Homo sapiens: one gene and its partner. The protein of the gene in region 2 purifies or fractionates together with the protein of the main gene of each other region. This does not show direct contact. Each region holds a gene or a part of one and is shown on either strand. Other genes may lie near its edges. The genes, in order: TLR4 and ADIPOR1.

The links.
Region 1: the proteins of ADIPOR1 (region 2) and TLR4 purify together in Homo sapiens (co-immunoprecipitation; one study listed by IntAct). This does not show direct contact.

The regions. Positions count from the first base shown.
Region 1 is NC_000009.12:117,717,628-117,721,451, reverse strand, and holds part of TLR4 (toll-like receptor 4 isoform A precursor), read right to left. Parts: 3' UTR 1-3,824.
Region 2 is NC_000001.11:202,941,259-202,945,082, forward strand, and holds part of ADIPOR1 (adiponectin receptor protein 1), read right to left. Parts: coding exon 3,725-3,824; intron 2,688-3,724; coding exon 2,500-2,687; intron 961-2,499; coding exon 767-960; intron 444-766; coding exon 315-443; 3' UTR 1-314. UniProt on the Homo sapiens protein: Receptor for ADIPOQ, an essential hormone secreted by adipocytes that regulates glucose and lipid metabolism. Required for normal glucose and fat homeostasis and for maintaining a normal body weight.

The DNA of each region.
Region 1 (3,824 bases), on a different chromosome or scaffold from region 2:
CAAAATGAAGTTTGCAAAAAGAGGCTAGAAGAAGATAGAAAAGATGTAAGAGAGAGAGCAAGTGATTTGGAGACACAAGATCAAGGAACCGATCTTGGGATAGAAAATACTCTTCTCCAGTTCCATCCATGCTCTCACTTATGAGTGGAAACTAAATAATTTGTAGACATGGACATGGAGAATGAAATAACAGACATTGAGGACTCAGAAAGGTGGGAAGGGGTTAAGGGATGAGAAAGTACCTAATAGGTACAAAGTACACTGTTCAGTTGATGGTTACGCTAACAGCCCAGACTAAACCATTATGCAATATATTCATGTAACAAAACTGCATTTGCACTCTCTAAATCTATAAAAATTAAAATAAAATTTTCTAACCTTGAAGAGAGTCTTTGTTACCCATCTTAAAAAGAATGAAGTCAGAGTAGAGACATGAAGTTGTCTTTTTTTTAAATAGTTTTTTTAACTCTATATTTTTATATAGTGTCTCCTAGGGAATCCCACAAATAGAAAGAGTGTTTATTCCTTTCTGAGGAGGAGAACAGACCTCCCAGAGTCCAAAGGGAAAGACAAGGACAGTCCCAGGAAGAGGAAGGGTCATGCACTAGCATCTCACGGCCGAGCCCTAGGAAGACGGAGGGGCAAGGTCCTGGGGTGGCTGTGGATAGAGTCAGGCTGGGTTATTTCAGGTCAGTCCTGCCTTGCTTGGCCCATGGGAAATGGGGTGTTGTTAGTATGAGTCAAGAGCTCAAATTGGTAACTGGCTGGTTTTGATTTAATTACATAGTGAGATAGTTTCCTAGGAGCATACAACACAATCCTTTCTCCTAAACGTGAGTTTAATTTTCAACAAAACACTTCTCTCATAAACATCACGTCATTTCTAAACCTTTATTGCCATTCCCAGAACTGCTTGCAGCCTTTCAGAAACCCATTATTTTATAATTATAATCAAGACTATTAGGACAGGACAATTTGTGCCAAAAAGCGCATTTACACTCAGAATTGTCACTTAGCACTGTCACAGGAGGGATCATCTTTATTTCTGTAGAAATCAAGGAGAGTTGCAGACTCTGCCTTTTAAACTTTTAATTTCTAGATGGCATGGGAGTTACTGACCTTGTCTAAATTATTCTCCATTCACTCCACTAACCACCCCTGGCAGAGTAGCCCAGGACATCACAGCAAGCAATTATGTTATGGAAAGAATGCAGCCCCAAGAATCAGGCCAACCCAAGTTCATATCCTGATTCTGCTCCTTCCTATTGAACAATTCAGTCCTTTCATCTGTTTCTTCATCTGTGGAATGGCAAAGCTACAAATACCTGCATCAGAAGGTCATTTTAACAATTAAATGAAATAATATACAACTAAAACGGTGCCAGACATGCACCAAAAGCTTAGCAACTTAAAAAAAATACAGAAGGTGCGGCAAATGTTATTGTGATTAATATAAGCTGTGTGACCTAAGGCAAGTTACTCGTCCTCTCTGGGCATCTCTTTTCTCATTTCTAAAATGAGAAGAGTAGCCTTTAACTCACAAGGTAGCAGTAACGATCAGATGATCACGCATGGTGCTCAATATAGTTGGTTCCTTTTGATCGACCATTTACTCCACAGATTTTACTTTGAGTTGAAAAGTTCGGTGATCTCCATAAGGGCAGCCAGAGTGTGTGATCTTATTCCAACCATCTGGAAAGTCCTAAGCTTTTGGAACTTCCCCCATAACCTCTGTGTTTAATCACAAGTCTGTGATGCCCGTCAGGAAGTCAGACCAACTGTAGACATGATAGAGCAACCCTAGGCATGTTGTTCAAAGAAAGGCCATCATCTAGTGGGCCTGATTTGTTCACTGTTAAAAAATCTTTGATCACATAACTTAGATCACATTTTTCCTGGCTCTTACAGCTGTAATATAAATAAAAACAAGTAATAATAATAATACTTCTCTTTGTTTAATATCAGTCAAAATTATAATGGTGAGATAGGAAGTTTTATGCATTTTGTGAGAGCAGGGTGCTCTTGCCATAGAACAGTATTTAGAAGCCCTGCTTCTGCGGTGAAGTGGACTTAGATCCTAATCTCAGTGCTGCCACCAATGAGCAGGTGACAGTGGACACATGACAGAATGACTCCCAGACTCAGACTCCTCATTTGTAAATTGGAAATACTTTCGTATCTTTCTAATTCATTGATGTGACAAACTGAGATAGCACAAATAAAGCCCTTGCATAAAACAATTGATCAATTAAATGTAACTATTGTAACTATCAACATTATCATTTTAACCAAGTGAGGTCTGCCAACAAGGTATTATTACCTCCATTTCATGAATTAAGACCTGAGCCTCAAAGCACTTGAATGACTTGCCCACAATCACACAAGTAAATGGAGACACTGGCTTAGACTTTGGTTTTCACTCTCCCAGGGAGTTCACTGTCACATATTGTGTGAGTTCATTTAAGCTTCTCCAGGAGCCTGCTGATGATTTCTAAAAAGTTTATAGAGTCCAGAAGAAGACTGGGGTCTGACAATCCCGTGAGTAGAGAATGAATCAGAAAGAAATGTCTAATTTTAGTTACAGTCACTTCTGTGGTTCCACAGGCTGGAAAAATAGCAATTACTTTAGTGTTGTTACTGAGAAGACCTCCCAGTGCTTCTCCTAGTGCCCTCTTAATAAAGTCTTAGGGGAGTACTCACCCATAAGGACAGTGTCCCCGTATTGAACATAATACATGATTTTCAATCCTTAGAGCAACCTTACAAAGTCATAGTTCTATTCTTATTTTACATTGGAGCTAAGTAGACTCTCAGAGAAATGGAGCCCAAGGCACACAGTTGATAAGGAGTGAATTTGAGTTTTGGCTTTCTCCAAAAGCCACGCTACTCAAAACACCAGAAAAATGGAAAGCACTGTATTAACGCTCATTCTCGGTGTCTTTCTCTCCTCTTTTTATTCTATGTCCAGATTTTCTACTTATTATTGATTAACCCTATTGTTCACATATCCTTTGTTTGAAGCTCCTTCAAGTCCTTTATGGAAAGATAGGGTTATAAATAAATCATTTGGTATGTATAACATATATGCATATGTATTGGCTTAATGATTCATGGCTTCAACTGAGAAACCCTTGCTAGTGTCAACCACACAGAAAACTGCAGGAGTTTCACTTCCTGTTTTGCCAACTTTAAGCATGAAGCAATTGGGTGTGGAAGAAAGAAAGTGTCCTTGAGTGACCTGGAGGCCCAGGCTCAGGTTTTGTCACTTTCCTACTCTGTGGGCTATTGAAAAATTTACTTCATTGAACTTCAGCTTTCCCATCAATAAAATGGAAAAAGTTAATTATGATTTGCTACCTTACTCAGCTAATGAGATATTCAAATATATAGTTTTGTGAATATGTTTCAAGTTGTAAGGTATCACACAAATTTAAGGCATTACAATTGGCATTAATTTATCCTTATTCCACCCTTTATCCCTCTTAAATCCAGAGGATTTAAAGAGCTAAAAAGAGGCTGGCTGAGGCCTGACTTTACTCTTTCTTCTCCTTCTGTTCTATGCATATAATTTCTTTCCCTGCTTGTCCACCTCACCTGCCATTTCTAGAATTTCCATCTGGGAGAGGGAACTGATAGGAAGGAGGCCAATGTCAGCCTTGAATATTTCGGCCTTGAAATATTCCAAGTTGTATGTTGATCTTCCTTCTCAGAGCCTTGTACATTTGCTTGAATAAACACACTTATGCAGAATTCATATTCAAATATGAATAGAACCACACTTACATGTAGCACGGATATACACAAAATCATACATTTTCAAGCAT
Region 2 (3,824 bases):
TTCCCAAAATGGTTGGAGGAGAGGGTAAAATCTCAACATGAGTTTCAAAGTACTGTCTCTGTGAGGGGCCGGTAGATGCCTTGCTGAGGAGGGGATGGCTAAGTTTGACCATGCCCCATCCCCAGCTAGGAGAATGGAAATGGAAAGTTTATTGCCCAGTGGGTGTGAAAGTGGGCTGAAGCTTGGTTGGTACTGAATTCTCTAAGAGGTTTCTTCTAGAAACAGACAACTCAGACTCTTCCTCTCACTTCAGCAAAGAAGTTATTTTTAAAAGCACTTGGGAAGTTCCTCCTCCACCCCGCAGGTGGGAAGGCTCAGAGAAGGGTGTCATCAGTACAGCCGCCTTCTAGGCCGTAACGGAATTCCTGAAGGTTGGAGACTCCATAGAAGTGGACAAAGGCTGCTGCCACCACCAGGACATGGAAAATCTGATGAGACTGGAACTGTAGGAATAAAAAGAAAAGAGCCTTTAGGATAATGCAAGGAGGAATAAGAAACAAGTAGGAGAAAGCATTTGCTTCTTCTAGTTTATCCTTAATTAAACAAATTTGTTAATAACATTAAAGTGGTATATTTAGAAAGTTTTAAAAACACAGTCCTTGTCAGAGATACACCAAAATGTTAATATTGATGATTTACCTTCAATGCACATATATGTACCTCCAAACACTATATGATCCCAGTCTCATACCACCTTTTCCTCAGCCCTTTAACTTTGGGCTGTTCACTCACCATCACAGGACCTGCTGGAAGATTCATTTCTTACCCATATGTCAAATTTTCCAGGAAAGAAGCGCTCAGGAATTCGAGCAGCATAAAGGCCAGCTCCAGTGATGTACATCACAGCCATGAGGAAGAACCAGCCCATCTGGCCCACTGTGGTGGCCTTGACAAAGCCCTCAGCGATAGTAAAGTGCATGGTGGGCACGACGCCACTCAAGCCAAGTCCCAGGAACACGCCTGAACAGAACAGACATAAGACTGTCAAACAAGGAAACAGCCACCGCATGGAAGGCACTGCTGTCTTACTCTGGAATTTCAATGTTTATGATAATTAGCTATTTTTGGATGAATAGTACATGTTTAGGAAACTTAGCTACAAGATGGATAACACTCAACAGATATTTCTTCTATGTCCTGAATGGGAAGAAGCTGTGTAAGTGCTTACTACCTTTTAAGCACCAAGAACAAAGATCTCATATTCTTCATTATCTGTTAAGGAATTTAGGTAAAAATGGTATGTCAAGACTCTCTGATGGCTAACTTGGGTACAGAACTTAGATGTCAAGGCTTCAGTTGCCTCCCAAGTCAGAGAAGCATAGGATAGGCTTCCTGTTAAGATCATAAAAGTCTTACATAACCAGAACTCTGACCTCCTGAGTAGACAGATATACCCAGATTAGCAGTTATCCTGTAGCTGCTGGGACACACAAGTAAGGCAAGAGCAAGGGAAGAATGGGTATGTGTCTCATCATTACACTACACATAACTGAAGGGCAGGGACCACCTCTCCATCTTTGTAAATACCTTTGTTTAAGCACAGTGCATGGCACGTGGCTGGTGCTTGATAAATATTTAATTATTATTATTTTTTTCTTTTCTTTCTTTCTTTCTTTTTTTTTTTTGAGATAGAGTCTTGCTTTGTTGCCCAGGCTGGAGTGCAGTGGCGTGATCTTGGCTCACTACAACCTCTGCCCCCGACCAGGTTCAAGTGATTCTCCCGCCTCAGCCTCTCAAGTAGCTGGAATTACAGGCACCTGCCACAACGCCGACTAATTTTTATATTTTAAATAAAAACAGGGTTTTACCATGTCGGCCAGGCTGGTCTCAAACTCCTGACTTCAAGTGATCCGCCTGCCTCGGCCCCCCAAAGTGCTGGGATTACAGGCGTGAGCCACTGCTCCCGGACAATATTTAATTATTTTAACTGAAGGTTAAAACATAGCAGATATTAATTGTAAAGGGACTAAAGACTAGTGGTAATTGGTGGTGTTGCTGCAAGTAATAAAAGCTTAAAATAAGAGTCCAGATGAGATGAGACAACACAAAGATGTTTATGCTTGTAGCTATTACTTTGTTACCTGTTTATGCTCAAGGTATTTTCATTCACCAAACCAGGTATTCCATTCCCTTAGTAAAATGCCTCTGAGTGTTTTAATTTTAATCCCTTGGTCTGAGCTTGGGACTCGGGTCACTAAAATTACTGTGCTTGCTACATTTTTAAACTGTCACAAACCAAGTATAAGAGTAGCTACATCTGTGCTTGCAGTTAATTGACCAGCTGGGTAATGATCTGTCCTATTGGCATTCTACTGAAATAGTATGACACTGGGGGTTGAGAACTGAGCTTTGAAATTGATGCTGTTTTGAAAGTTCTGAAACACAAATCAGGGTTTGGGTGGGGTTCTCAAGCTGCAAACCTTAAGGCTCAAATAGGTTTGAGCCTATCAGGCCTAAGGTCTAAATACCTCTGAGGTGTACGTACATCTTCCGACCTACCTGCTCTTGTCTGCCGGTGCTTAGGAGTGGCAAACCGGTCCCACTGCGCCACAATGATGGCAGAAATGCCCAGGACACAGACGATGGAGAGGTAGATGAGCCGTGGCTGTGGGGAGCAGTAGAAGGAATAATAGAGCCAGGGGACAAAGCTCCCCATAATTAGAAGAGCAATCCCTGAATAGTCCAGTCTAAAAAGAACCACAAAAATGAAACAAATCAGTGGGGGAAATGAATTTGTATGGCTCATTTAACTAGCTCTTTCTGTTCTCCACCTGCTCCCAGATTTAACCATTCCCTCAATCTATCCTGTATTGTAGACTCCCATACAATCTATCCTGTATTCTGGATTAAAATTCCACAAGGTCACTTCTATTTTACGATGGAAAAATCTCTAAGAATCCCCATTCAAAGAACTCTATCCCTTTCCCTTACTAGTGAACAGCCGTATCTCCCATAGTAGACACTTGAATTTAGAAATTCCATCACAATCCAGCTGGTTCCCAGCATCACACTCAGGAAAGGCTTTGAAAATTCTCCTATTCTGATAGAATGAGTTCTAAAAACAAAATTCTTAAATTGGGAGTAGTATTAAGGGATACTCTAGCTTTTTCTATCTTAGTTGACTTTTTAAATGAGGAAAATGTACCTTCTTACTGGTGTTGTTAGAAAAAACAAAATAATACACCACTGTCGCCACCAAAACCAACAATAACAACAAAAACAAGCAAACAAATAGAACCTCAGGCTCACGGCTGGGCAAGAGAGAAAGCACACGATGATGGACATCTGGAGCTTCCAGCAATGCATGGGCAGCAAAGATAAGCTTTACTTGACTGCTGGGTAGGAGCACCAGCAGAATGAAGCATAGACTATTTACCACACCCTACTTTGGCTTGGGCTAATAGTAAGTTACGCTTGTACAAGGTCTTGGAAAGCAGCCAGTGCACTGGCACTCTAAGCCTCACAAAAGATAGTGCTTTTCAGGTAGAAAATATATTCCACAATTGGTCTCTCCATCTGTTGAAGAGGATGCAGTAAGTCTGTTCATGAAGTGTTTAAGAGAAAAGCTTCATCACCCCACTATCGCCACAGAACAGAGAGCCTTTCCTCTGGCATATCAAGAAACCTTTAGGAGTGATATGAGCTCCTATCACCCAGTAAGCACTGGGATCTCAAGATGTGACAACAGTGCACAGTATTTTCCTATGGTGTTCTTTTAACTCACTTGGAAAAAGTCCGAGAGACTTTCTCTGAATGACAATAGACGGTGTGAAAGAGCCAGGAGAAGCTGAGGCAGAGCACTGCACCCAAAAAGAACATCCCAA